Homo sapiens: one gene and its partners. The protein of the gene in region 4 interacts with the protein of the main gene of each other region in a biochemical or structural test. Each region holds a gene or a part of one and is shown on either strand. Other genes may lie near its edges.

Region 1 (7,650 bases), on a different chromosome or scaffold from region 4:
CCTAGGAAGGCAGGAATCTCATGCCAAGAGTCAGCTTGATTCCTCCCAAGGAACCATGGTTCCCGCAGCATTAGCTTAAGCAGCACACAGATGGTGAGGAAGTGGCTTCATGGCCCTGGATGAGGTTTCCTCTCTGGAGTAGGAGGAGCCCTAAGAAAGAAAAGAAGAAGGGAAAAAAGCCAATTCAGGCAAACTGGTAGCAATTGAGGATTTTCTTCATTCTTTTCACAGTTCAATGGGGTACTTAATGTTTATTCAGTGCAAGTTTGAGAAAACAAACTCTTTCTCAAATCCTTAGACCAAGCAAGCTGCAAAACCTAAAATGTGAAAACATCACTGGAGAACAAAAACTCAATGAAGTGGGAAGCACAGATTCTTGAAATAAGCAAACAATACCTTGGCAATTCTCTTACATTCATTCCAAATGATCCAACTTCATAATTCATATGCCACTTCAGCCACTGGGGGAATGTCTGAAGTACTTATCAACAAGCAGAAGTTTTTACTTGATGCTCTTTACCTTGATTGTTTATTCAACCACATATAGTAAGTTCTTGATACTTGTAAGACACCTGTGTTAGAAATGCAAAGATGAAAAAGATATAGTATCTGCCATAAAAACATACAAAAAATCAAAAATCCTAACATCAGTTAAAGAGAAACAATAGAAACCTACTAGTCAAAAAGAAAAAATCTATTTTATATTTGTAGAGCACTTATCTCTAATGGGCGTACTATATTTTCCTTTTTAAGAGACAGCATCTTGCTCTGTCACCCAGTGAGCTATAATTGCTCACAACAGCCTCGACCTTCTCGGTTCAAGTGATCCTCCTGCCTCAGCCTCCTAAGAAGCTGGGACTACAGGAGTATGCCACCACACCCAGCTAGTTTTTAAATTATTTATAGAGACAGGTTCTTGCTATGTTTCCCAGGCAGGTCTCTAACTCCTGGCCTCAGGCAATCCTCCTGCCTGAGCCCCCCCAAACTGCTGAGATTACAGATGTGAGCCACTGCACCCTGACAGATCTTATAAGCCATTAAGTGACAGTTAAGTAGCAAACCTGATGTTCTCACTGCTTCAAAAATAAAAGGCTGGCCAGGCATGGTGGCTCAAGCCTGTAATCCCAGCACTTTGGGAGGCCAAGGCAGGCGGATCACCTGAGGTCAGGAGTTCGAGACCAGCCTGGCCAATATGGTGAAACCCTATCTCTACTAAAAATACAAAAATTTGCCGGGTGTGGTGGTAGGCGCCTGTAATCCCAGCTAGTGGGGGTACTGAGGCAGGAGAACTGCTTGAACCCAGGAGGCGGAAGTTGCAGTGAGCCGAGATCATGCCATTGCACTCCAGCCTGGGCAACAAGAGCGAAACTCCATCTCAAAAAAGTAAATAAATAAATAAATAAATAAATAAATTGATTTGGGGCCTAAACACTTCAGGGCTTAATAAGTTACATTCTCTTTCTTACTGGCTCATGGCAAAGTCACTTCCAATGTCACCTCATCAAGACACCCAGTCACAAGAGAAATTGAGACAAAACCATTCCACAAAAGCAGAGAAATTTCTCCCCAAGAACCTGGGGATACAAGCCACAGTATATAGTGAGGGGAGATGTGTGACCCTCAGCTTTGGATGGACTGTAGAAGACCACCGAGGAGGGACTGCCTGGTCCTCAAAGCTGAAGGGTGGCAGCAACTCAGAAAATAAACAAATGAGACACCAGGTCCCTATTTTTTCCCTCTAGTTAAGAAACCCAGTGACTTCATAACTTTTCCACTGGAATATAGCAGCCCTAGGTCTGGCCTGTTCCCTCCCCAGCCAGTGGTTCATCTGATGCTGACTCTGACAGCTCCCTTTCTTCCCATGCACTCACCCCTAACGACCACAAATAACACAAAGCCCACCACATCCATGCCACACAACCACCCTTCACGCCTCAGCCCAAACCCAAACCTCACTTCCTCAAAAGAAATGCCTCTTACTCAGAGCATCAGAATGGACTTCTCCTTCACAGCACTCATCTCAATTTATAACCGCAGGTACATACGTGAAGTGACCAAGTAAGACTGTAAAATCTGGGAGGGCACAGACTCTATATGTTTTCCACTTCGCCGTCTCCCCAGGGTTTAGCACAGTACCTGGCACACACAATGAAGCAGCACAATAAAGCTCCATGAATGAACGAAGAAATGAATGAACTCCAAAATCATATAACTAAGCATACACCATAAAGAAATCTAACACAACCACCGAATTGGACCCCACAACCATAACTGAACACATAAGCAAGCCCCTCGCACTCTAAATCACGTAAAAAGTAAAAAAAATAAAAATAAAAAAAATAAATATAGCTACATGTTCTGCAGCCGTACATCCAGCATGAATGTCACCCCGCCACATGCCGCATCGACGACACATCCCACAGCCGCACTCAACCCGGCCTCACGATCGCAACCACAACCCACATAACTAACATGATTATACACACATCGCATGACCACACACAACACGAACGACTCAATCCCGTGAAGCAGACATGACAACGTCACACATCGCACAGACACCACACAAAACACTCCGAACATCTCCACACGAACTCAGAATACAAACGCTTCAGCTTTACACAACCAGAGAATCAAACACAACCGCTCGGGAGACAAGCACCCACCCACTCCACCCACAGCTGCACAACCAAACCCAAGTGTATACGCCCCGCGTAACCGCACAACCACACAGAGCCCAATCATCAAAGGCACACACAAGCGAAACGCACGGCCTGAAAGCCCCATCTCCCACCTCTCACGTCACACCCACCACAACCACACACGGCCCGCCCGTCTCCGTTCTGGAGGAGTCGTGTCCCCGCCCCCCAGACTGGGCCTGACCCTCTGTATGTACCCTGCCGGGCTCCTGCGGGCACCCAGGTTTGTCCCCCCCTTCAGGCCCGGGCTCTGGGCCTCCACCGTCCGTCACTCAGCCGCAGCCGCCATCTCCATCGGTCGCTCGGAACTCGGCAGGTGCGCCTGCGGCGGCGACGAAACCGGAAGACAAGCTGGTAGACGCCTGTCGAGCGCCGAGTCTTCGAGGGCGCGAAAAGGGCGGATACGGATTCGAATAGTGGAGGGCGGGCCGGCGGCTTCTGCGCAGGCGCTTTCCGAACGAGGGAGGGGATGGTGGGGAGCGGAGAGAAAGTGGGGCTCGGTAATTTTGTGCGGTTCTTACGTCCCGAATTCGAACTAATAGCGCGTCAAAGCCAGCCAATGGCTCTGCACCGCCTTGTACAGGTGGGAAAGCTGAGACCAGTAGATCTTTGGCTCTTGACCAAAGTGCACAAAGAATAAGGCAGCCAAGGAATCAAAGTTCCTGAGAGCTAGAGACAGAAAAAATATTCAGGGGACGTGGAGGCGATGGAAAGTCCAAGAATAGAACCACATGAGAGTGGAGACTTGGTATGAGAAGGTGTATCCCGGGGTGTACAGCATGGCCAAGCCTGTGGAAAAGATGGCATTTTCAAAAGGCAGGACGATTGATCAGCCAGGACCTACCCCGTGCCTACGCTGTGCTGGGTACCACGGGGTATAGAGAGGCAAAACCTCATCCCAGTCCCGGAGACCTATTTGCTTTGTGCCCTGCACACGTTCTGGACCTTAGCAATAGCCAGCCTCTAGGAGCAAGAGCTGCAGAGAACGATGGGACGATGGGACGATCCTGGGCCTCCGTTTACATCCCTGCAGTGTTACTGGCCCCCTTTTACAGAAGTAAAATGGGGATGATAATGATAGTCTCCGCTTCACAGTGTTGTGAAGATTGAGGTAATTGCACGGTAGGTAGGTAGGTAGGAGGGTGTCCTGCATATTGGCTTTGCCCATCTCACTTTCCCTGCCTCCAAAAAGTCTTCCCCACCTGGTCTCTGGACAGGAGCACTGAGCCTCCATCACCTTCCATTTAAGGACATGGGGCTCCGGACTTGGAGAGCATTGAGTTTTTGGAAAGCAATCACCAGTGAAAGGGCAGTGAACTAGGGGTCTAGAGATCTGGGTTCTAGCCCTGGCTGTACGTTACTTTGTGGCTTTGAGCAGGTCCTTTCCCCTTTCTTCGCCTGAGTTCTCTCATCTGTACAAAAGAAATTGGCTCCAGTGACTTAGCCTTTTCTCTCAATCTGATGGCCAATTTTTTTTTAACGTTACAACATCTGCAGGAGCGAATAATGACTTCCCTTTGTTTACTGATGGAGACAAGGAAGAGGCTTCCTAACCTGTCAGAAGCAAAGCAACATGCCAAGCTCCCCGTCTCCATCACTAGCTTCTGCCTTAGGTCCCAAAAGCCAGGACTTTGGGAGTAAAACCACCCTTTTGAAAGTCTGAAGCCACCGAGGTCCCAAAACGAGCCACACTTACAGGCAGGACTATGTTTTGGGTAGGGCAATGAACGTTTATTAAACCATCATGATTTTTGCTTGTCATTTTATCATTTACAAAAAACATATTTGGTCGGGCGCGGTGGCTCACGCCTGTAATCCCAGCACTTTGGGAGGCCGAGGTGGGCAGATAACTTGAGGTCAGGAGTTCAAGACCAGCCTGGCCAACATGGTGAAACTCTGTCTCTACCAAACATATAAAACATTAGTCGAGTGTGGTGTCGCTCGCCTGTAATCCCAGCTACTCAGGAGGTTGAGGCAGAAGAATTGCTTGAACCCAGGAGGCAGAGTTTGCAGGGAGCCAAGATTGTCCCACTGCACTCCAGCCTGGGCAACAAAGTGAAACTCCACCTCAAAAAAAAAAAAAAAAAAGAAAGAAAAGAAAAGAAAAAAATATCATATTCATCATTTCATTTGCTCAAAAAAGCAATAGCTATGTGGCCTCAACTTGTAAGTTAATTCTGGAAATCACAGTGGATTGGGCACTGCTCTTGATATTGTTTCTTTTTTTTCTTTTTTCTTTTTTTTTTTTTTTTTTTTTTGAGGCAGAGTCTCACTCTGTCCCCCAGGCTGGAGTGCAGTGGCGTGATCTCAGCTCACTGCAAGCTCCGCCTCCCAGGTTTATGCCATTCTCCTGCCTCAGCCTCCCGAGTAGCTGGGACTACAGGCACCCGCCACCACGCCCGGCTAATTTTTTGTATTTTTAGTAGGGACAGGGTTTCACTGTGTTAGCCAGGATGGTCTCAATCTCCTGACCTCGTGATCCATCCGCCTCGGCCTCCCAAAGTGCTCGGATTACAGGCGTGAGCCACCGCGCCTGGCCGATACTGTTAATGATAATGACAAAGACCTTCCTATATGCTTCACACTTCATCAAAAGTACTTTCTTTAATCCTTTAGGCAACTCTATGACTATTTCCAGTTTGATAATAATAAAAATGACTAATATTTACTGAGGGATTTGCACATGCCAGACACTGTTCTATGTGCTTTCCATATCTTAACTCATTTCATTCTCACACAACCCAATGATGTACAAACTATACAAAATGTAATAATATTCCCATTCTATAGAAGGGAAGCTGAGGCACAGAGAGGTTAGGTGACTTGCCCAGGGTCACCAGCTGGTGAGCCTTGAACCCAGAGTCACCTTGCCTTGAGGCTTTCACAATCCCCACTTTTCCTTCCTCTGTGAAGTGCTGATAGACTTCCTGTACCTCCTCAGCTTCCTCCAGGCACCACTCCTGTACTGGGCATAGAGAGGGGATGTAAGCCAATTAGTTCAAAACAGAAATGTGCACGTGCACACAGATGCTCTGGTGTGAGAGGAGAGACCAGCAGAGTCCCCTGCAGGAATTCACGAAAGGTTTCCCAGAAGCGGGCAGCACGTGAGCATGGTCCTTGGGTAGAAACGATTGGGAAGGGCCTTCCAGGCCAGGGGAACAGCATATGCAAAGGCATAGTTATGGAGAAGAACATGAGTCCTTTGAGAAACTCACAGAAAAGTTCATTCACACATAGAGGGATGATATCAAGCCACTCCTCCTTGTTCCCAAAACTGTAGGCAGCCACTTCTAGTGAGAGAATCGTGGACAGCTGGGTCTCTTCACCCTTGCCCCCTGCCTTAGGGTTCTCTATCTTTCTGTCTCTCTATCCCTCTCTCTATCTCACTCTCTCACTTTCTCTTGGCCCTTATTTGTCTAAGTTTATCCCAAGCAGCACAAGACATCTTGGCACCACATTAAAATCCTTGGGCAAGAAAATAAATTATGATATGGATAACATAAACGTCATTGGGGAAGGTCTGGGCACATCATGTAACTTCCCGAAGGGCCAACTGCCCTCCAGGCTGGCCTGGCCCCAGCTCCCAGGCCTCTGCCAGCTGCTGTGGTCTGAGCCAGCGGGTTGAGGGCATTGAGGTTGGCACACCCTGTCTGCTGGCACAGAGAAATGAGGGTGATGACAGACAGCCTGGCAGAGCCTTGCCTGGAGGATGGAGGGAGGGTGTGCTGGGCTGGGCAGTGTCTGAGGGAAGCAGGTGGCAGTTGCTGTGGCCCTGTCAGGAAGGAAGCAGGGAATGAAGAAGGAAGAGAAAACGAGGGGAGAAAGGAAGAGGAAGAGGGAGGGAAAGAATGACAAGAAAAAAGCGAAGATGGAGCAAAAGTCGACCTGGGTTTGAATCCCAGCCCTGCCACCTGTGGCCACGTGAACCTTGGGCGGGTCACTTAAATTCTCTGAGCTTCAGTTTCCTTATCTGTGAAATGAGATAATTATAGTACTCACCTCTTAGGTTGGAGGGTTAAATAGCTTAATATTTGGAAAGTGTTAGAACAGCGCCTGGCACAGGGGAAGGACTATGTAAATGTTTGTTAAATAAAGAAAAAGGAAGAGCAGTGTAATTCACATGCCTTGGCTGTTGTGTTGCGCTGAGTCAGACAATAGCATGAGGGTGTGAGGATCCAATCTGGTGTCATAGAAATAGCTTTGAGAGTCATGGCCTTGCCAGATGGGATGTCTCCAAAAAGAACTCAGAATAGAATCACATAGCAACTAGATTCATTAAATCCAATAGTGGGTGGGGGAACAGCCTCAGCAAACCTGAAAAGCAGGAAACATGGAATTGACTTGGGAGATGTGAGCTTCAAAGCCAATCAGTTTGCAGGTAGCGGGCTGGCATTGTCTTTGACAAAGCAGGACCACTCCAAGCCCATTGGGGCCTGTGGCAAATGGGAAAGAGGCACCACTCCCTTCTCTCCCATGGACAAAACCTTGTGCTGGCACTCAAGCCCTGCATTTGGCAAATGGGGCACATACTGGATTTCAGCATCCACTTACCCCCACCCCCACCCTACTCCCAACTATGCTGCATACAACCTGCACGGTGGCCCTAAGTGCAGGGAGGAGGAGAATCAAGAGCACAGCATGGTCCTCAGGTCACGAGAAAAAGTCACGCTGGTTGTCTGCAGCTTCAGATCTCATTCCCTGACTTACATCTTCAGAGATACGCACCTTCAGCCAGTTGAGAAGTTAACCTCAATTTTAACCCAGATTTGAAACAATCTGTGTGTATATGGTATTTTAAGTATTTGAGGGATTTAAGAGTGTTTGGCATATTAGAGCATCTAACACATTCATCTCATGACTCCAGTTTAAAATCTGTAACTCAACAAATGACTTAGGCTTGTGATTTTAAGTTCATTCAACAAACTATGTATTAAGCACCTACCTACATGAG
Region 2 (7,023 bases), on a different chromosome or scaffold from region 4:
AACAAGTTTTTCCTTCCTTCCTTCTTTCTTTCTCTCTCTTTGTCCAATTATCAATACAATACAATTGGCTTTATTAACTGTTAGAGAATTTGCCAGCTTTCCTGGATGGTTCATACGGCACTCTGAGAATACTGGGCGTTTCTTCCATTACCCTTACAAGGAGGTTGTCGATGTAGTCCTCGAGTTCCCGGATGTGGGTGTCTTTCCTCCTAAGGAGTTCTTTGTGTTTCACCAGCTCCTGTAGAACCTCTTCATAGGTCAGACTACGATACCCTGCAGTGGCATCAAAGGGGTTGCTGTCCTAGAACAGGATAAAGACTGTCACTTTCATAGATATAACATCTGGGACAAACATTAAGAATTACCTGGAACTTCGACTTTTTGTTTTTCAAACCCTGATGAAGTTTTTCGCTAGCCTTGCTTAAAGTGAATGTGACAGTTCACAAATTGGCTAGCCAGTCCTGAGGCAAGAACTAGGGCAGATGCACCAAAGTTTTGACTATAACTCTAAATCCTAAAACCCTTTCTAACATTGTGGGCAATTTCCTAATATCTGAGACTGGTTATATCATGTAAGATTACATTAAGAGATGAAATATTCTATAATAAATACAACTAAAATAGATGAAAACTAAAGATTTCTAAAAGTTAACTCAGAGGAACTGTAAGAAGTAACTGAAAACTATACACTTGGACTTGTGTCCTTATGAAACTGCTTCCACTGAACTGTGATTTAATGTTATATGTTTGGCTTCTTAGTGAAGATGGTTACAGCAAAAATCTTTTCTAATTTGCTATGAAAATGGAAGCACTCGGAATTAAATCAAAGATTATCCTTACAGGAAGCCCCATGTGAGTAACTTCTGTTTTAATTTAGAAACAGGCAGAACTTTTCCTCCCCTGAGTAACTGGTCTATTTCTTTCTCCTATAATAATATCTAATTTATCTTCTTTCCCTTTTTGACCCTGGTTATCAGGAAACTCAAGAGTTCAACCATATTAATACTACGGTTAGTATATTTGCATTCTCTCCCATTTCATCTATTTACTTAACTTTATTCTATTGACAAAAATTCTTTTTAGGCAAAAGCATAAATATAACCAAAAATCTTTTTTAAAAGACACTTATTAATTCACTGTTATTACAAAGCATTCTAATATTAATGTTATATCAAAAGTGAAAGAAAAATATTTCTCAGGAATTTAATCAAGGCCCTGTAACATAATCTTTTATTTATAGTGTATAGCATTAAGAGTTTTCATTCTGTAAAACATAATGCCCAATTACAACTAAGCAATTTTTTATTCTTTTTAAATCATAGTTCTCTCATTAAGCCCAACAATTTAAAATAATTTTCATCACTATCTTTTAAAACATTTCCATTTGGCTTTAAGGAAACTTAACTAAAATATTGAGGAAATTGGTTTTCTTGCTGTTAAGGAATACTATCTAATCTATTCAGTGGAGGATGGGGAATGGGGACTGGTGAATGCAGAATGACCCCCACCCCCAATAAGAATTAAACTGTCCTTCCCTGTTTTCAGGATCTACTTTAATAGTGCTATGTATTTGGGGGTGTTCATGAGAAAAGCCAAAGTTTAACTTTTCACTGGCCCTCACCACTTCCCCAGCCTCTCAGCCCAAGGAACCAGGACTTTACCAGACCAGAGAAAGAGAAGCTAGAGTACAGATACCAATTTGATGCTTGGGTCATTGAAGCACACCCACTTCTCCAGGATAAGTGAAAACATTCAGGACTGAAAAACTTTTCCAATTTCATAGAATCTCTCAGGCTTTGTGGAGAAGATACAGCTTGCGCTAGGCCTTCAAGAGTTTGCAGGCAGAAATGCGTAATGGGGCATTTCAAGCAGTGAACTCTGCTTGTTCAAAGAAGGAAACAAGGCTCAAGGCATAGTGGCCAACAGGTAATCCAATAACAGGTACTCTGTAGAGCATGGCTGGAAAATACTGTACAGGACAGCGAGCAGACAGGGGCCGAAATGGAAGGTTTGAAATAGACCACCAAGAATGCTGAATGGTAGTATAAAGAATTTTTAGACTTTTGCTATGGAAAATAGGAAGCCACTGAAGGTTTCTAAACAGAGAAAGGATATGATTAAAGCTATGTTCCAGGAAAAGTAAAATGGCAACAGTGGAATCATTTGGAGGGGCTAAGATTAGGTATAGGGCTATTGAAATATGAAAGACCAGAGTTAGCAAGAATGAATAGAGAGGATATTAAAGGGAAGTGAGTTTAAATTCTATAAAATATGTCTAAAACAACTTAGTTTATTTTAGCATTAGAAACTGGAAACAGATGTAAGTTTCAGTCATATTTCCTTCATCCTTAAAAACATTTCAAATATTGTTCTAAAACCATTAAAGGACAATTCTAGAGATAAGTGTTGTTTTACTTCTCCCTCCTCTCTCAGATCAATTAATCTTTTATAAGTCTACACACATGCGCACACACACACACACACTCTCATGCACGTAGTTACTAGTTTAATTGGTCATAATATATAGTTTGGAGATACATAAGTATTAATTACATTCTTATAAAAGATTATGTTAAGCCGTTTTCTACAGTAAAGAGAAGACATAGTGTAGAGTTCGGTATACTTTTGAAATTTCTTAAAAATAAGCTAAAGTGTCTTACTTCAACTCGAGTAATTCTGCATAAATTTGAGAGAGAAAGCAACTTGGGTCTCACTTTCCTTATCTGATAGATGAGATGTTCTCCATGGTCCCTTTCAACTCTAAAATTGTCTGGTATACCAAGTGATTTTTCTAAACCCCACTTTAAAAACTAATAAACTCTAACTAATGTGATTTCACTTTTCTAATAAAACATTTACTGAGAAATTCATGTTCTTGTGAGAATTGCAGGGATTAATGAAAGGAAGCTAAATGGGATTCATTACTGATTAGTTGACTGCTTTATGCTTTTTCTTTATTTAACATAATAAAAGCATCTATTCAAGTCTCTCTAATCTTAATAAAATTACACATATATAAACTGATTTCTCCAAACTAATTAAGCTATGAAATAGTTAAAATAAAAGTGCACTGTTATATTTAACACTATTACCAGTTAATGTAGTTAAAAATTTTTTGTAACATTTCTCTAAAGACACTGAAGATGAAAAACGTTTCAAAAATTTGTGTTTTGATATAAATTAAAGCCATGATATAAATTAATAGTTTAATCTTTCAAAATAATCAATTATTATTTCAGACTACTGGTCATACTTTATAGCCATACTCTAGAATACACAGATATGTTATTTGGATTATTTTTTTTTTCCTTACAACAATCTAACACTAATGTGTAGACAGATTTCCTGGAAATACATTTCTGGCCTTTTCAATAAATTTTCCGTTTGTCCTTTTATGTGAAAATTTCACCTCAAATTTTAGCATCAAGTTTCTAGGCAGGAAAACATCTTAGAAACATATGTACTATGAATTATATTCTGGAAAAGAATATAAAATAATTAAAAACAGTTTCATGCTGAGTTCCAGATTTTATCTGATATTTGAAAACAATGTAAACCTTCTAATTTTAGGCATGAGATTCTTAAATTGACTGATATACTCCACATATATATATATATTTCTGTTTGTTGATATAACTCCAAATAAAATAATGATTAAGTAATATAAACAATAGAAAATTAAAACATATGCTCATTACAAAAATTATTTTTTTAGAGAGGAAAACTCTCAGGTAAATATAAAAATTATTTTTTCGAAAGATTATTCTTGCAAAAACTTGCAAAATTCATAACTCTCTAAACTGGCAAAGACCAAATGCAACTTACAATGGTTACTCCAAAGTGCTCAATATTTTTTCTTACAGTACTCCATACAGACAGCACTTATGTTTTTAAGATGTTTTCTTATTTTGAAATTTAATGTAAATTTTTCTTCTCTCTTCCCCTTTTACAACCAACCTTTTCTCATTTCTACTCCACCTCTGTTAAAAATGTCCATATGCAGACATAGAAGATGTGGACTGGTAAGAAAATATTAGAATTACTACATGAAGTTTTCTAACCCAGAATTTTAAATAATACAGTTTTGCATAAGATTTTGAGAACTGCTAGTGATCTATTTTTGCTTTACACAGTCTAGCCTTTTAAACTAGGAAATGTACATTTTTTACAATATTTAAATTTAAACAAAAGCAAATTATCAAGACTCAAAATAACTGAAGATTTAAAGAAAGGTTGTCCTGGTAACCAAATATTGGTGGGGTACTAACTGACATCCAAGGCAACTAGAGGAGAGAGAGAAAAAAAAATGAAGGCTTGGCATTCTCTGATCATCTCATTATTGTTCTAATGAGGAACTTTGCTCTGGGAATATCATCTCAGCTACTTTCACATCTTTTGTCCTACTCCCTTCATCTCCCTTTCAGTTCTTAATTAGGCCTTAAAGAGCTCACACTGCCCTTTCAACTGGCTACTGCTCCTGTTTAAACACTGTGCTTTCACAGACAGGTGTTGGCACTAGCATATAAGACATACAAACTTAATTACAAAATACTATGTCCAGAGGGAGAAAAAATAACTTGGTGGATGGCTATTATTGGAGAACTTAATGTAAATTACTTCAAACATCTTATAATCTTCAACATAAAAATTGTTCGAATGCTTTTCTTCAATCATGATCAGTACGAAGATGCGCTTCCTCCTCTTAATTGTATCTTGCAGTAAATTAACAACACCTAGTAATCCTTTAACTGTCATTTAGAATAGTTAGTATTCCAGAGAAAAATAATCACACATCAAGGATTCTTTTATCACCTTTAAATCCTTTAACTAAAACAATTTTCACATTTTATTTCTTTAAAGAATTCTAAGGATGCTTCTACAGCAATAAATTACAAGATTTGGAAAAGTACATTTACAAGCAATCGAAATTGTAATTAAGGTTACTTAATAAACAATAGCTACACATTAAATCGATTTTTTTGATGTTGCATTTTGTTTGAGATTAAGTAACCGCCTGATAGAATTCATTTTACTATCTGATCAAAGGCTGACTTCATATTTTCTCACATTTCTCGCCAGACTGCCATATTATAAAGACTTGAGAATTTATAAAACATCAAAACTTACGAATCGTTTAAATAAAACAGCAAAAACACAGTACAAAGTCCTGTGCTTCTGTAACAGTTTCCACAATTTTAAAGATAAACAACTGCATTTAGAATGGTTTAGAAAATAAACCCTAAACCCACCTTAGCTTCTTCTAGCCATGTCACATCCTAAAAAATAGTGATATGTGATATGGGATTGCCTAAAAAAATTCTTACTATACATCTGGATCGCACACATCAAGGACAGATGGTTGAAACAGCAACCACCAGTGTCTTGGAATAAAGCCTCTATTTCTGTTATTCAGTGAGAATTTAGTTTTCTACCAAGAACGTTTGCCCATATTTTGGCAAAGTAATTTATTCTCTACGTTTAATATAGTTAGAATTGATTGCAGATGCAATGGAACTCTGAACAGAGATTAAATACTGGACTTCAAATACTACAATAAAGTTCAGATTATCTGAATAATCCTTGCAAAATACGTGAGTTGATTTAGGTGGTCGCTACCAATCCTGTTAACATATTTGGTTTTGTTCTGACGAGAAAGATAAGTGTCCTAAAGTATTTGTTCTTTCAAATACTTTCCTGGTTATCTGGCTCTCCTGCCAGGATGCTTTTCTATTGTTGAATGTTAACAAGCAGCTTTATTCTTTCTTCAATCCTTGTCCCAACAACAACAAAAAATAGTCTTTTCTACGTGCTCTTATTTCATAACCACAAATTTGACCCTGACATACAGCTTGCATATTAATTTCAAAAGTCTGTAAACAAAATATGTATATTCTAAATTGGCTTCAATTATAACCAATTTTGCTTGAACTTTCATAGATCATACGAGTCACACCCTATTGTATATTAAAGGCAAAGATTGTATTTTACTTTCTTTCTTTCTCCTAAAATTACTACGCTAAGCTACAATTCTTAGGTAAGTGAGGCAGAAGGCAAGAAGACAAAGGCATTTTTAGAAATGTGTGCCAGAGAAAAAGACCAGCTTACTCTTTGACAACCCTCTAACCCCTTCAGCAACTTACCGGGATTTTCCTGAGGTCTTCATTGCTTGTTGGACTCATATGAAAACTAATAAAACACAAACAAATGTTAAAAGTGTCATAACTCATGTGGGAGGAAACATAAAAATAGAAAAATTTTAACCAACATTGTAATACAAATTTCTAAAGCCCTACATTATTCAGAGGAGTGAAATTTAATCCAAGAAGTAGAAAAAAATCCAGTATTTCCCCAACATTCTTAAAGCATCATTACAATTTCAAACTTTGAAGGAAAACTTTTTAGTTATCAGAACTGAAGAATGAAATAGGAAGTTTCTAAACAACTTTAAACATAGCACTTTTATCCAGCAAGATATTTTGCAAAACTAATTTGTGTGAGAGATTTCCCATTATATTTACACACAGTCACTCACCTTAGGCCCTCTGATATAAAACTAGGGAGAATTAAGTAAATTTAGGTTGGAAAGATTATAGAATAAAAGAGTTAAAGCAATCTGTTTAAAAATGCCATAAGTGTTAGAAAACTCAGCTTTCAAACATTACCCTATCAATAAGAATAAATTCAGAATTGTGGGAAACATTTCTCTCGTTAATGTGATTTCTAAGTAGCTAGTCTTGAAAATTTAAATACTGAAACGAATCAAAACAACACAGATTTCTCCCATGCAGAGAAGAAAACATCACAGCTGAATGCTATAACTATTTTCTTCTTTGAAACATGTCCATTAGATGGGACTGCAACCAAAAGACGCTAAACTTCAAAGCCATCTGATGAGTAAATATTTCATCGGTGCTATTCAAGTTTAATTTTTACCCAGCACTTAAAGGTATTAGCCTTTAAAACCTTCACAAAGCATTAGTGTCCTAAGAACCTTTTTATTCCATGCACAAAACAACAACTGTA
Region 3 (7,023 bases), on a different chromosome or scaffold from region 4:
CTGTTCATCAGTTACCATCATCACTCCAAGATCACTGAACCAAGAACATACCCATGTGATTTATACAAGTTCCCACTGGCCTTGGGCTTTGCCAGCCAAGAGGTACACCCCTGGGAAGACAGGCATGCTCAGGGGTGACATGGCATCTTGCTTGACCTGGTTTTGGGAACCCTGCAATATTTCTACTAGCTTGCTCCTCTGCAAGCTGGCCAACCCTGAGCCCAGACACCCCAGGCTATTTCCCTGTAAGGCACTGAAGAAACCGATGCAAGCTCTCAGGACCGGAAGACATGCACAGCTCGGATTACATACTGCCGGCAGATGGGACATTCATTCATGCGCTTGCCACACTTGGTACAGGTTACCATGTGGCCACACTCCAGAAGAACACAGTCAATGGGTGAGTCCATGCAGATCTTACACAGGTTCTCCTCCAAGCCTGATGGTACTGCTCCCCCTGTACAAACACACAGGGCAGAAAAAAAGGGGCAGAGGAGTGAGGAGAATGTCTTAAGTGTATAGGGGTGACTGGGGGAGGGAGGTGGGAGATAACAGGTACATTGTAAACAAAGTCTCAGTGCACATGCTTCCCTCAAATAGAGCTCCTCCGAGGAAACATTTCCTCAATAACCAACTCTGGTTACTTGTTTAATCCACACTTCATCCCCTCCAACAGGTAAAGATTTGAAAAGTACACAGCACTTGTGGATCAGACACATCCCAGAACATGAGAACTAAGGCAAAGTTCTCAAAGCTTAAAAGAAATAATTTTCAGACTGTTGGGGCTGTAATATAGTGAGTGTGTGAGTGGCACGTAGGGACTCATTATCCCCTGAGGCAGAACAGGCTAAAAAGATAAAACTGGTTCAGAAAAGTTTAGATAGAAATGGAACTGTGATGAATGGTTCATTAAGGATCACAAGGCTTTATCTATAAACATATCCTCCATTTAATAAAGTCAGGGATCATGGGGGACCCCTCTGCTATCTCACAAACTACTCCCAGGTTTCCTGAGGAAACTTCCTGGTGGAGAAACTTGGCAGAGATTACTGCTCCCTCTTTCTACCCCCACAAAACTTTTTTATACCCCCATGACTGCTTATCACATTGGATTAAAATTTTGAGTTTGCCTACTTACTCCCAGAGTAGACTATGAGCTCTTTAATTCAACATATTCAATCAATTTTTACAATTATATGCTTAGCATTTATTCCATGCTCCAAGGTTAGATATTCATCTTTGAAGCCCCCAATGCCAGTTATATGGTAGGTACTCTAAATGTCTGATGAATGAACATCTTCCCAAGGGAATGACAACATCCCACATTTACTGAATGCTTACCGTGTGCCAGGCAGGGTCCTGAAAGCTTTGCATGTGTTAACTCACTGAAGCCTCACAAAAACTATAAAGTAGGACCTCTTGTTATTTTCATTTTATAGATGAGGCCAACTGGGGCAAAAAAGTTAAGTGGCTTGCCCAAGGGCACAAAGCTGCTAAGTCGAGGAGCCAGGATTCAAACCCAGGCAGGCTGGCCCCACAGCTCCTGCTCTAGAATGGCCTTCTGCCTAACTGCCCTAAGAGTAGAAACTATCCAGACAGTATCAACTGCTGAGTGCACAGGGTTCTCAATAAATGCTAACTGGCTTGTGTCACTAGCAGAATATAGTGGGCATGACCAGTATCCTAGTAGAGCTGACCCAAACAGAAAAAATAATGTTCAAAAGCCCAGCCATCTCCAATATGTCTTAAATTGTAGCCTGAAGTAGGTACCCATAAAAAGGAACTGATCTCACAGAAGTCACCTCTACCATCTGGGGGTTGGCCAACCCATAGAGGAATTCTCCCTTATTGCATCTATACTTTCTCTTTTCTGGACTATTAAAAAGTCAAGAAATACTTCCCCCTAGGAGGTAGGCTGGGTGTGAAAGGGAGTGAAACCCATTTGCCTCTTTTGAGGTGCTGTTGGTCCTAACAGAGGTTTGGAGACTATACAAATACCTAAGATGAATGGGAATAATTTATAATTTTCAGTTACTCATTCTCTCAGAAGTAACAACAAACACATTAACTCAGTTGTCAGCATTCTCCCAGGGAATCAGAAAAAGAAAGGAAGCACCAAGTAGATCAGCCTGATCTTGGTACCGGTGATGCTGGGGGGTTGGAGGGTGGAGGTGGGTCTAGAACTCCAAATGGTTTTGGGGAATTGAGAAAAGCTCAACTGTTTTTTATGTCTGATTAGAAGTAATCAGACATAAAATTGCCCATTCTGAGCAAAAGGCCATTTTACTAAATAAATTTGGGAAATCTTCTGAAATAAGTTTTAAAATGCTGCAGGCTAGTCCAACACTACTCTTAGAACGTTCTCTCTTGGAAGGGAGTTCACAACCATATACCCTTGAGGCTTTTGAAAACACATAGCATATTTTAGAATGTCCCCACAGATGGTCAGGAGTTCTGCAGTGTGTTCTGGGAGTACCTGAGGGCCCAGTGGTGGTCTTTAAGTGAGTGGCAGCTGAGCTGAGATATATAGCTTGTGCCCAGAGAGTAGCACATGTGTTAGCTCCAGAGTAGCTCTAACCATTACCAGCCCTGTACAAACAGGGCTGTCTCAGGTCACCACCCTTTCTTTTTGGTTAGTACCAGAAGCTGCTAAACACCCTGATTCCCCAGAAGGTGTACACAGAGACCCTCCCTACCCAGACCAGAACTGAAAACACCAAGATTTTAAAAAATGAGCTGAGTGTGATACATGCCACCCCTCCTCTGTTTCAGTGTTTTACAAATGTTGGCTTATGAGCTCAGGTAGCCCAGGGACATGCACATCAGTCAGTCCGCCCCTACGTATGCTCCACTCTGCTTCCTGCACAGCGAGCAGAGAGAATTTCTAAAGATGGTGAGAGGCCCCCTGGGTCTCAGTGAGTTTCCCACACACCCTCTCTCTGGGGGCTCAAATGCTCAGAATTCTTAGATTACTAAAGGGATTGGGGTTGAAGGAGGGGAAGGACAAAAGGGCCTAAGCCCATTCCCAAACAGAAACAACTACATACCGTTTTGGTCTTCGGCACCACTGACTGAAAAGGAAAGAGAAGGATGTCTGAATAGGTAAGGCATGATGGTACAAATACAGTCTCTTACTGCCCTGACATCATTTCTGAACTCTTACCACTCCCTGCTGGGAACCAGGCTTGCCAAGAGCCTAGATGGACATCTGCCCTCTACTCGCTCTACATGCTCAGAACTCACACAAAGCTCCTACTCGTGCATCTGGTCTACTTTTATTTTTTATTTTTTTGAGATGGAGCCTCACTCTCTTGCCCAGGCTGGAGTGCAGTGGCATGATCTTGGCTCACTGCAACCTCTTTCTCATGGGTTCAAGCGATTCTCCTGCCTCGGCCTCCTGAGTACCTGGGGACTACAGGCACATGCCACCACTCCCGGCTAATTTTTTGTTTTTGGTGGAGATGGTGTTTCACCATGTTGCCTATGCTGGTCTTGAACTCCTGATCTCAAGTGATCCACCTGCCTCAGCCTCCCAGAGTGCTGGGATTACAGGCATAAGCCAACACACCCAGCCTGGTCTACTCTTAGGAAAAGGTATTCCACCAGTTTGCACAAACTGCCAAGTAGAAGGATACTGTATATGTGCAATATCCTTTTCTATTTTGAAGTCAGCATTAAAGTCAAGAAAGAATGAACTATCTAGCTGTTTCAGTCAGTCAGAGAATCTGGATAAAGTTCCCACGTGGAGTCATCTGTTCTGTTCCCCAGGTCCTGACGACTGGAGAGAAGACTCTTGAAACAATCCCAAAGGGAAAACAGACTCCATGTCAGTAGGCCTCAGTCTGTAATCGGGTGAAGAGTCAGTCAGATGACCCCTAACACTGATGAATTTGAGCTACTGGTAGAAGAGAGCCTGAAACCTGACTTCAACCACTCTTACCAAGCAAGGAATCAGTATGTTGCTCTGTAGGAACCAAATCAACTGGGGATGGGAGGAAAGGAGAAGATTCTGTGGTGAAATAATTTCAGGAAATGCTAAGTTCAAAACAGCCAAAACACATTTCTCTTCTGCAGGACTTCTCTGCCTTTAATATAAAAATCTACCATAAATCAGTAATGAAGATATGAGGTATTTTTCCCTAAACTCATTTAACCACAGACCCAGATATTTTCCTGGGCATCTCCTGAATGATACAGTGTAAAATGCTCTGGGAAATGAACAAAAGGAAGAGCCCAAGTGCAGATGGAACAGCTATCTTCTCCTGCCATGTATGTAGATTCACTTTCTACCTCCCAAATCTTCAGAACAAGCATTCTTATTCTAAGGTAAGAAAACTTACAAGGTGGTGGTGAGTAGGGAGGGGATAGCATATGGTGAGAAAGGCTATGGACTTAGACCATAAAATTTTCAGTTAAATTTTACCTTTCAGATAAAGGGGTGATGCTAATAATGTCTATTTCATAGGTTGCTCTAAGGAATAAATACATACATGCAATGCCTAATCTAGTTTTGACACTCAACCACAAATGACAGCTATTATTAGACGGTGCAAATATGTAAGGTGTCTCCTTCCATGGCTTAAGTGTGGAAATTGAGTCAGGTCAATACCATCATGCTTTGGAGTGACAGCAAACACTCCTGAGCTCTGTAAAGCTACCATGCAGATAGCCCCTCACCCAGGTGCTGGAGTCCTTTCTGATCCTTGTATAGCCGGGTCACTCTCTCCATCAGCTCCCACTTCTCACAGCAGCCCTTGTAGTTGACAAAGTTGCGAGCCAAGATCTCTTTCAGCTGCCGCACTGTCAGGCCTTCAATGTCCTCCAGGTCAGTCAGGTCAGACAGAGAGGCCCTTCGGCCTGGGACAAAGCTGTCCTCTGAGTCAATAGACTGCAATGACAAAGATGAGATCAGTGTGCTCAGCTCTTACCTCCCCAAGCTCTTTCTCCAAGGACCCCAAAGCAGTCACCACATCATAATTTTGGTGACTGACCTCATGAAGGGTAGGAACAGAGACAGGATGAGTACCTGGCATGGTGCTCTGCATTGCAAAATATACTAGAATCTCTTCCTGACCCACGATTCTGTGCTCAGGAGCAAACAGACACAGACCAACCAATCAGTGTGATATAGTACTAGATAGAAGTATAGTAGAAGGAGTGCTGGTTTGAGTCATATGACCCTAATTTTGAATCTTGACTCCTCTGCTGTTAATGCTAAATAATATCCAGCAAGTTGCTTACCACTCTGAGCCCGTTTGCCCCTCCATTAAGGGGAGAGAGCAGTCCTACCCCACAGGGGTCCTGTAGAGGTTAAATATGGCCGCACATGAAACCCAGCATGGTGCTGGCCCTTCTCCCCTGGAGACTTCTGCTTGCCCACAAGAGGCACATTTCCCTGGCAAGTACTCCTCTATACACAACCTTGGCCACAGCTCCCTGGTCTGTGCTCTGGACTGGCCCTGCCTGGCTAATTGTCTGACCTCCTTCCCTTGACAATGGCTACAGTGTGCTAGAAGCAAGGAAAGAACAAGACTTTAACAGCAGGACCACAAGCCTGCCCTCCGGCAGCTCTTAGAAAGTCAAGAGACTGGAAATACAATGGGCCATGAGGCTTCTCCGTCTCCACTGTGACCTCACAACTCCTTATAAATACACTGACCGCTTCACTAGTTAACCTGGAACACTAACACTAAACCCTACCCCAAAAATATAATTTCGGAAGCACTATCATCACACATTTATTCTCTCTCCACTCGACTCTGCTAAGAGGTTCCGAAGAACACCAGTGAAAGAGGAAAGGTGAAGACACAGACCCAAGCAGAGGCCCCACCTGGGTCTCATCCTCAGCAGGTACTCTGGCCACGCTCTCCAGGTAGACGGGTTCCTCTTGATCCTGAGACACATGGCCATTGGCCTGTGGGAAGAGAAAAGTAACATCACATCTAGAGATGTCCCAGAGATCTGCATAGCATGGGCCTCTTTTCAACTCACACAATGTCCAGAATGTACTCCCATCATGCCCAGAAATCCGGAGCCTCTTACAGCATCATTACAAAAGCCTGCTCTCTCATACCAACTTTGTCAAGCAGAGAAACAACAAAAATACATTTCAATAGACAAAGCTGCCCTCTAGAACAAAACTGCATTAATTCTGCACACACCAGGATGGCAGTAGCCACAACTCATCATCAATTTAATCTCAGCTTGAGCACCACAGGTGAAGGGAAGGTCATTGTGTCCATTCCACTGCTGGACTGCTCTCTATCTGGCATCAAGGTTTTTCTTGACACTGATCCAAAATTGCCATCCCTATCCCTGGTTCTGCTCCTCAGACCATAGTCTCCTGGGGTTTTTGTTTGTTTGTTTTTTGTTTTTCCCAAACTGTTTATACCATGTTTTCCCCTCCTTCACACTAAATCTCCCTGGCTTCCTTATCTGACACTGATGGGACAAAGTTTCCAGATCATCACCACCCTAGTCTCTTTCTTTTCTGCCTAGTAACTACTCTCACATTCTGGAAATGTGCTCCCCATGTTGAGCACACTATTATTAAGTGCTATGTCCAGACCTAGTCAAAGAGTATTTTAATGTATCTAAGAATCTATTAGCCTAACACTATATAAAACACTGCCTATGCTTACGGAATTTCATTATGCTTAGAATTCTCACTTCTCAAAAGGTTCCTCCTGAGTACTCTTTTAGGAGGTTTGGCCAAAGAGTAGGCAGAACTGTTAGCCTCCTAATTCCATCACCATTTAAGCCACAAACCCCTTAAGTAGATCCTCTTCGCCCACTGCTCCCTGCAGGCAAAGGGCCTGCTGTGAGCTCAGAGCAAAGAGGTGTCTGAGCTCACAGGCCTTTTCCACCAGATTCTGGGGATGCCAGTGAAGGGACAATCTGGGAAACCAAAGACACCCACCGACCCCAGCCACTCACCCCACATTAGGATTCATAATATGGAGCTAATCAAGAAGAGGCAACCAACTGCAATGGAAATGAAAAGCAGAAGTAACAAAATGCCAA
Region 4 (7,378 bases):
GACCCATTATCTGTAGGACACAGACTTGAAGCTGCCTTTCCAACAGACGGGAGGACTCTGAGCCGATCAGCTTCTCCCTTTGGCCCCATCCCCCAGTGACCAGGGGCCCACGGGCAGAGGGCAGCTGGCCAGGGCAAGGGGTGCTCTGCAAGGCAGTGGAGCAAGACCAGCTGACCTGCAGGGCGAGCAAAACGTGGGCCTCACTCTCGCCAGTGCCAGTAGCAATGCATGAAGGCCAGTCCTGGCCTTCCTGCTGGGGACAGGAGGCGCTGGAGAGATGATTACAGAATAGAAGGATGGGAAGCAGAATTGGCTCTGGGAAATCACATACATAAAAATGCCTCATAAATGAGCCCAGAAAGTGAGTTAATATCTATAGGACCCAGAAACCAGTTGCTCTGCAGAGCCCAGGGTATATGGCAGAAAACAAGAAAGGGGAAGCAGCAAAGATGCCTCCGATTCCATCTCACCAAGAACGCACAGGTTTCATCTCGCACAAGTGGCAGTCCCAGTTATGCAATAAGTTTTTGCAAGACACTCTTAAGACACCCTGACTGCACCTTGCCTTGGTCTGCTCCAGCTGATTTTATTCTTAGAGCAGCCACATAGGGGGAGAAGGCCGGCAAGTCAAGTTCACGACTCAATGAGTCTCTTCAAGACTCAGCTGGGAGAGGCTGTATCAGCCAGAGAAAAGCCTCCTTTGTTGCACCCTCCTCGCCGGGCTCACTCCCCACACTACACATCCTGGCACAGCTCTGGGCCTCAGCGTGGGCTGATAGGGCCCTTTCGGCAGGGCCATCAGTGATCAGGGATCCTCTGGAGATGAGGTGGCAGCAAGAAGGAAATAAACGTGTGCCACCTCTCAGATCCTGTGGCACCAATGTCATCAAAGCACCGGTCTCGGACAAAGCAATCTCGAATTGCTCTTTTTCGGGTAGAAGCAGCAGAAAGCAGTAACTGGCTGTGCAAAAGCCAGGCAGTCAGTGCTGGCTGACCTAATGGGTGACTTCCACACATCAGCCAGACCCTCTGAACCTCGGTTTCCTGAACCAGTCAGGTGGGGGCTGCCAAGATGATGTCTAAGATCCTTCCAGCTCTGAAACTCTAGGCTTCCAAATTCAGAAAACTGGTCCTGTGCCATGTCTCTCCTTTCAAAAAAGGTGTGCCCTCACAAGGAAAGTGAAGAGGACTCCGCCTCTTCAGGACCCTTAGCCCAAAGGGCTGCACTCAACCTGGCCTTGACAGACAAACATCAACAGCCGTAAAACAGGAGGGCGGGCTGAAATGCCTGGAAGTGAACAGACCCTGCTGAAGGTCAGCTCTGTGCCTGGAGTAGGCCTGGCCACCAGCTTGGCTCTAGGGCAAGCTGCCCTGCACAGCTGGATGGCGTCTGGAAAGGAATGTGACCGTGCAGGGCGGGGACCTGGAAGGCAGGATTCAAAGATTCCTTCAGAGGCTCTTCGCTGGTGCAGAATTATGAAAGGCATGTGGAGTCCGTGAACGTGGGGTGGCAGGGAGGACAGGGTCTGTGAAGTACTTTGGTATGTCGCCTGGGGGTTGGGACGGGCATGTCTCGAGTTTCTCTGGAGAAAAGTGAGCTTGGGCATTGCACTCCTTGAGGGGCGGGAGCACTGTGTTTCATTCACAGCACTGAGACAGGCAGAGTCCTGGAGCTCACTCTCCTCGCGTGCAGAGGCCACTTAACTGGAAAAGTGAGGTCCAAGTGGGTGAAGGAACCTCAGATTCTGTCCCTCAGTGCACAGAAGGGCTTAGGGCCAGAATCTCATTGCAGGGCTCCCACTGCCACCACCTCATCCTGCTTCCTGAAACCCCTCAGGGCAGCACTGACCTCTTGAGAGCTGCCATTGGGAGAAGTGTTCGAACCTCAACTGTCCCCTGCCTCCAAGGGGCTGCCCCAAAGTCAGCAAGCCACAGCCGATCCTCCTCCTCCCTCCTACACAAAACCACCGTCCCAGGGGAGGCAGAGCAGACCCACACCGCACCAGAGAAGGGAATGGCTAAAAGTTTCATTGTGTTTTGCTATTGACACTTAAGAAGACAGGGAGGGGAGGGTTGATTTCCGTGAATTAGGTGCATCCAGCCTGCGGGACGGAGGTGGAGACCAAGAAAAGGAGCGCAGGAATGGCTCAGCTTCCTACTGCGGCCCTGCTGCTGAGGGGAGTGGGGCTGGGATCTGCAGGAGGGCTTGGTGGTTACCCTGGAAGATTCTGGGGAGGACAGAAGCTGGGGGAGCCGACAACGCCCACTCTTAGACCCCCAGTGGGTTTACTCTGGGAAGGGGCAGGGCCCTTGGACCAGGGAGTGGTCACTGAGGGTCTCACTGGGGCCTCGGAGACAAAGGACGGCGGGGCGACAGCCACGGGAGGGTCAGGCTCCGAGTGAGGGGTGTGCCCCGGACGCGCCCCCCGCCCCCTGGAGTGATGGGTGGGTACCTGTTGAGGAAAGCGTTGCCAAACGCGTTGAGCTTGCGGAAGGGGCGCCGCGGGTCCACCACGAGCGCGTTGCCCGGCACCACGCCCTCAGTGGGGCCGTGCATGACGGCGATGAAGGAGTCGGTGGTGGGCTCGGGCCCGATGCGCATCCCCGGGAAGTCCTGCTCGATCAGGTGTCGGATGAAGGTGGTCTTGCCCGTGCTGTACTGCCCCACGAGGAGCACCATAGGCTTGTTGTCGAAGTCAGCGTCCTCCAGCGCGGGCGAGTGGAACTCGTGGAAGCGGTAGTGCTCCTCCAGGGGTAGCAGCTTCTGCGCGTACAGCTGCCGCAGCCCCTCAGCCACCGTCTGGAAGAGCTCCGGCTCCTTCTTGCGGCGGGCATCCTTGCTGACCCAGCTGAACATACTGCCGGACACGGGGCTGGCTGCTGCGGGGCAGAGCGGCGGCTGAGAGCGGGGCGAGGGTGCGGAGCCGAGGCGGGGCCGGCCGGGGCAGGGAATCGGGAGCGACCCACACTGCGCAGGCGCACAGCCCAGCCCGTCGAAGCGCCCTCTGCCGAATGCTGCGCACCCCTCGCGGAGCGGCCTTTATAGGGTCGGTCCCTCAGTGGCGGCTAGCGCCGCCGCGGCGGGGGCAGGGCGGAATTGGGGGCGGTAGGGAGGAGCCCCTCCCAGCCCCGCCCCTCCGACTGGTGCCACGTCTTCCCCTACCCCGCCCCCATTGGCTGATTCCAAATCTCGCGAGGCTGTGGTCCGGGTGCCGTGGCAACCGCACCTGTTTCGCCCCGCCCCTCGTAGGGAGGCTCGCGAAAGTGCTGCGGTTAGGAAGGCGAGGAGCGGGCGTTCGGCGGAGACGGCCTCTGGGCCGCGCGCCTTCCGGCACCGTGGCCCCCCCACACCCCCGCGGGATGGCTCCACGAGACACCCAGTCAGGCACCCTGGTTCCCTGACTACGCGCCGCGCCCGCCGTTCGCCACGTGCGGTCCTCCAGCTGGCTCGGAATCCCCGGAAGCATCGGAGTACCCCCAGGCGGCGGCACCTCCTCCTCTCAGCCCAGCTTCCCAGACACACACTGTCTTTGTCCCCTCATCTTTTATCTGCTTTGGGAGAGGGAGAGACAGGAAAGTGGTAGCAGAGCAAGCTGAGGGAGTAGAGAATCCGGGGCGGGCTGGTGACTGGGGAAAGAAAAATGGGCAGCGAGAGGCCTGACCTCCCCTCAGGCCGACGGGGTGGGAATGGGAGAGGGACGCAAGCGAGGGAGGACATGGGTGACACCGGACTCGCGCGGGAGAAGAGAAGGCTTCCCCACAAAGGCTATAGCTGGGGCAAGGCAGGGAGGGCATGAGGAGGAAGTTGAGGCTCTCTGGCCACTTGCGTATTGGGAAGTGAAATCGGAAATTCCCTATGTGGGGAAGAGGGGAAGTGTGGGGGCAACAATGAAATCTTGTGGGAATTTAGGGGGAAGTTTAAAAACCCAAATACTTCCACTTTCCTCTCGGGGTCACCACCATTTACCATCATTTACTGGGATCTGTGCCCTACCTCCCCTTACCAGTTCCTGGCTGTTCCATGGGGCTCACTCCCCCGCCATCCTCCCCGGCCACACACAGACCCCTTTGGCTGTCCAGGCTGGTGAGAATCTTCAGTGGGTGATGTCAGAGCTTTGGGGACTGATTGTTATGTAACCAGTATCAAGACACCAACCTGTGGTAGCAGGACCCTGGGGGCTCTTAAAGAGATCTGAATTGAACCTGCGACTTTGAAAGCCTCAGGTCCAACTTCCTCGCTTCTGGGAGATGTGGAAGCCTGGAGGGCTAGGGGCCTGTATCAGGGGATAACTTGGGCTGGTAGGCTAAGAGGAAGAGGCAGGAACTCAAATCTGAGAACGGGGGATATCTCAGGGGAACTGAGTGGTGGAATCTAGAGAGGACACGATGGGAGGTTTGTTCGCCTACCGCTTGTAAGATCCCTTCCGAGGGAATAGATAGTTCCCTTGCCCTCCCCTCTTGCTCCCTAACCATTGGAGAGCGGATAAGTAATTCCAACCCTGCCTGCAATCTTACGCCCCTTAGTGCTTTGATTTGATTCTTTTCATCATAGTAAAGCACACAAGCTACTGCCCCCCCCCTTTTTTTTTTTTTTTTTTTTTTTTGGTGTTATTCTCAAAAGAAGATACTGAGGCTCCTAGGCAGAGCTGTCACCAGAGGCTGCATGCCAATTGGTGACGAGGAGCCTCCGGCGGGCCTAGTCCAGACTTCCCGGGTCAGCCTTAGAAGCCACAGTGTTTGCCTCCTACTCAGCACTGTTAGGGATCCACCCCGGAGATGCAGTTTCTGGGTTGATCTAGGGAAGGGCCCAGGGCTGAGGATCCTGAATGAAGTAGTTGTTCAGTCGTCTCAATGAGGCTGCTCCAAACTGGCGCCCCGGCAGCATTCTCATTGACGCGCCATGGTTTTCAAATCTCCCCAGAGCCCTGTGTGCTGGGAAAACCCAGCCCTAGAAAACTGAAAACAACAAAATGTTCCTGGGTTATTTATAAACAAAACCCAGACCCTGTCGTTATGTATGGCCACTTGACTTTCTCCAAAGATCTTAAAGGACTGAAAGAAGGGATCTCTGTCACCCTGGTGAGGCCCACGTGACCAGCAATTAGTTTCCCCCAATTTCATGGAGTTGGCACCCAGCTTCCAGGCAGCTTCCTTATCTTGTCATGCCCCACACCGAAAATGTCCTAATTTTTTTTTCTTTTGTGTTTTCTGAGTAGGGCAGTTTGTTTGGTGGGAAAGTTGTATAAAATGTGAATGCACCCTTTCACTTTTGGTTTCTCCGCTGTTTCACTTTCTGCCTGTCTGCCTGAGCCCATGGCAGATTGATGGAGGGTTCAAGTATTTTTCTTTTATCTCAGAAACTGTGCCATCCCCCACTCCCAGTGTTTTATTCTTCAGTTAATAAATCCATTCCCTGCAAACCCAGGGCCTTGAGGTACCCCCTAGCTCTCCTCAGAAACGCCCTCATCCAGCAGAAAGGGGCCTCACCTCCCCTCTAAGTGGTCTGCTTGGTCCTGTCATGGCCTGATCTAGGAAAACATCTACAAGGTCCCTAGAGACAACTTAAAAAAAAAAGGCCAGGTGCAGTAGCTCATGTCTGTAATCCCAGCACTTTGGGAGGCCGATGCAAGCAGATCACCTGAGATCAAGACCACCCTGGCCAATATCACAAAACCCCGTCTCTACTAAAAATACAAAAATTAGCCAGGTATGGTGGCGTGTGCCTGTAATCCCAGCTACTGAGGAGGCTGAGGCAGGAGAATCGCTTGAACCCGTGAGGTGGAGGTTGCAGTGAGCCAAGATCGCACCACTGCATTCTAACCTGGGCAACAGAAGGAGACTCCATCTCAAAAAAAAAAAAAAAAAGAGAGGTGCCTTTTCCGCTTGCGGTGCCGTGCAGTGAGGAGCTCTTATCTGTGCTCTTGGCTATGCCATCCAAGGGCCAGCTGCAGTCCGTGCAATCCACTGCAAACATGGCAGTGGCCTCATCAAGGTGAATGGATGGCCCCTGGAGATGATGGAGCCGAGCGCTGCAATTCAAGCTGCTGGAACTAGTTCCTAGTTCTGCCTCTGGGCAAGGAGCAATTTGCTGACATGCACACGCATGTTTGTGTGAAGGGTGGTGGTCATGTGACCCAGATTTATGCTATCAACATCAGTCCATCTCCAAAGCCTTAGTGGCCTATTACCGGAAATAAATGGATGAGGCTTCCAAAAGGACCAGAGGCATCCTCATCCAGCATGACTGGACCCTGTCAGTAGCTGACCCCCGTTGCTGCAAATCCAAAAACGTTGGAGGCCCTGGTACCTATGCTTGCTACCAGAAATCGTACCAATAAGCCCATCACAGGGACCAGGATTCACCTATATAATAAACTATGTTTGAGAGTGTTTTTTTTTTTTTGAGACAGAGTCTCACTCTGTGTCACCCAAGCTGGAGTGCAATGGTGCGATCTCAGCTCACTGCAACCTCCACCTCCTGGGTTCAAGTGATTATCCTGCCTTAGCCTCCCAAGTAGGTGGGATTACAGGCGCCTGCCACCATGCCTGGCTAATTTTTTGTATTTTTAGTAGAGACTACTAAAAATACATGTTGGTCAGGCTGGTCTCGAACCCCTGACCTCAAGTAATACACCCACCTCAGCCTCCCAAAATGCTGGGATTACAGGCATGAGCCACCGCACCCAGTCGATATTTTTTTTTTAAGGAGTTTTTCTCCAAATATGGCAGAAAAATCGAGCTGAGAAAAACCAAAACATAGGTTTCTCCCTGGGATGAGGAGTGGTTCATTCTTTCCACTGACAGAGTTTGCATATCAGCACAGATTTTTGTTCTCACAGTCATGAGATTTGGGCAACAAATCAGTTTTCCCGACACAAGGTGAGGAACTGAGGAGGACTGTTCTTTTGAATGCCGGGTCTCCCACACTGGCAAGAAGAGTGTCCTCTCCACACCATGAGGCCTTTCTCTTGCAGCAGCTGTGGCCCTTGGGTGATGGCTCTGGGGAGATTGCTGGGCCCCAGAGGGCTCTGAAGGCATCTGGCAGCCAGAACATGGCCCAATTTGGAGGTGACCGTGTCAGAATCTTAGCTGCTTTCAAATTCCAGTGAGAAAGAGCCTGAGGCCCGGGATGTCCAGTGACTGCTCGAAGTAGCCCAGACTGAATGAGAATCTGGGCCTTCGGAGTCTTTTTTTTTTGAGAGGGAGTCTCCCTCTGTTGCCCAGGCTGGAGTGCAGTGGCGTGATCTTGGCTCACTGCAACCTCCACCTCCCGGGTTCAAGTGATTCTCCTGCCTCAGCCTCCCGAGTAGCTGGGACTACAGGCGTGTACCACCATGCCCGTCGGCTAATTTTTTCTATTTTTAGTAGAGATGGGGTT

Evidence for each region.
Region 1: the proteins of EHD1 (region 4) and RBSN form a complex in vitro, tested with the Homo sapiens proteins (one study listed by BioGRID).
Region 2: the proteins of EHD1 (region 4) and RAB11FIP2 form a complex in vitro, tested with the Homo sapiens proteins (one study listed by BioGRID).
Region 3: of the proteins of EHD1 (region 4) and RFFL, one has a biochemical effect on the other in vitro, tested with the Homo sapiens proteins (one study listed by BioGRID).

Annotation. Positions count from the first base shown.
Region 1 is NC_000003.12:15,096,139-15,103,788, forward strand, and holds the start of RBSN (rabenosyn-5), read right to left. Parts: upstream 3,011-7,650; 5' UTR 2,897-3,010; exon of another isoform or gene 2,884-2,896; intron 2,137-2,883; 5' UTR 1,981-2,136; intron 573-1,980; 5' UTR 397-572; intron 151-396; 5' UTR 1-150. UniProt on the Homo sapiens protein: Rab4/Rab5 effector protein acting in early endocytic membrane fusion and membrane trafficking of recycling endosomes. Required for endosome fusion either homotypically or with clathrin coated vesicles.
Region 2 is NC_000010.11:118,008,925-118,015,947, forward strand, and holds part of RAB11FIP2 (rab11 family-interacting protein 2), read right to left. Parts: intron 6,187-7,023; coding exon 6,141-6,186; intron 302-6,140; coding exon 74-301; 3' UTR 1-73. UniProt on the Homo sapiens protein: A Rab11 effector binding preferentially phosphatidylinositol 3,4,5-trisphosphate (PtdInsP3) and phosphatidic acid (PA) and acting in the regulation of the transport of vesicles from the endosomal recycling compartment (ERC) to the plasma membrane.
Region 3 is NC_000017.11:35,011,693-35,018,715, forward strand, and holds part of RFFL (E3 ubiquitin-protein ligase rififylin), read right to left. Parts: intron 5,915-7,023; coding exon 5,831-5,914; intron 4,889-5,830; coding exon 4,678-4,888; intron 3,072-4,677; coding exon 3,048-3,071; intron 458-3,047; coding exon 276-457; 3' UTR 1-275.
Region 4 is NC_000011.10:64,875,608-64,882,985, forward strand, and holds the start of EHD1 (EH domain-containing protein 1), read right to left. Parts: upstream 3,015-7,378; 5' UTR 2,881-3,014; coding exon of another isoform or gene 2,858-2,880; coding exon 2,454-2,857; intron 1-2,453. UniProt on the Homo sapiens protein: ATP- and membrane-binding protein that controls membrane reorganization/tubulation upon ATP hydrolysis. In vitro causes vesiculation of endocytic membranes. Acts in early endocytic membrane fusion and membrane trafficking of recycling endosomes.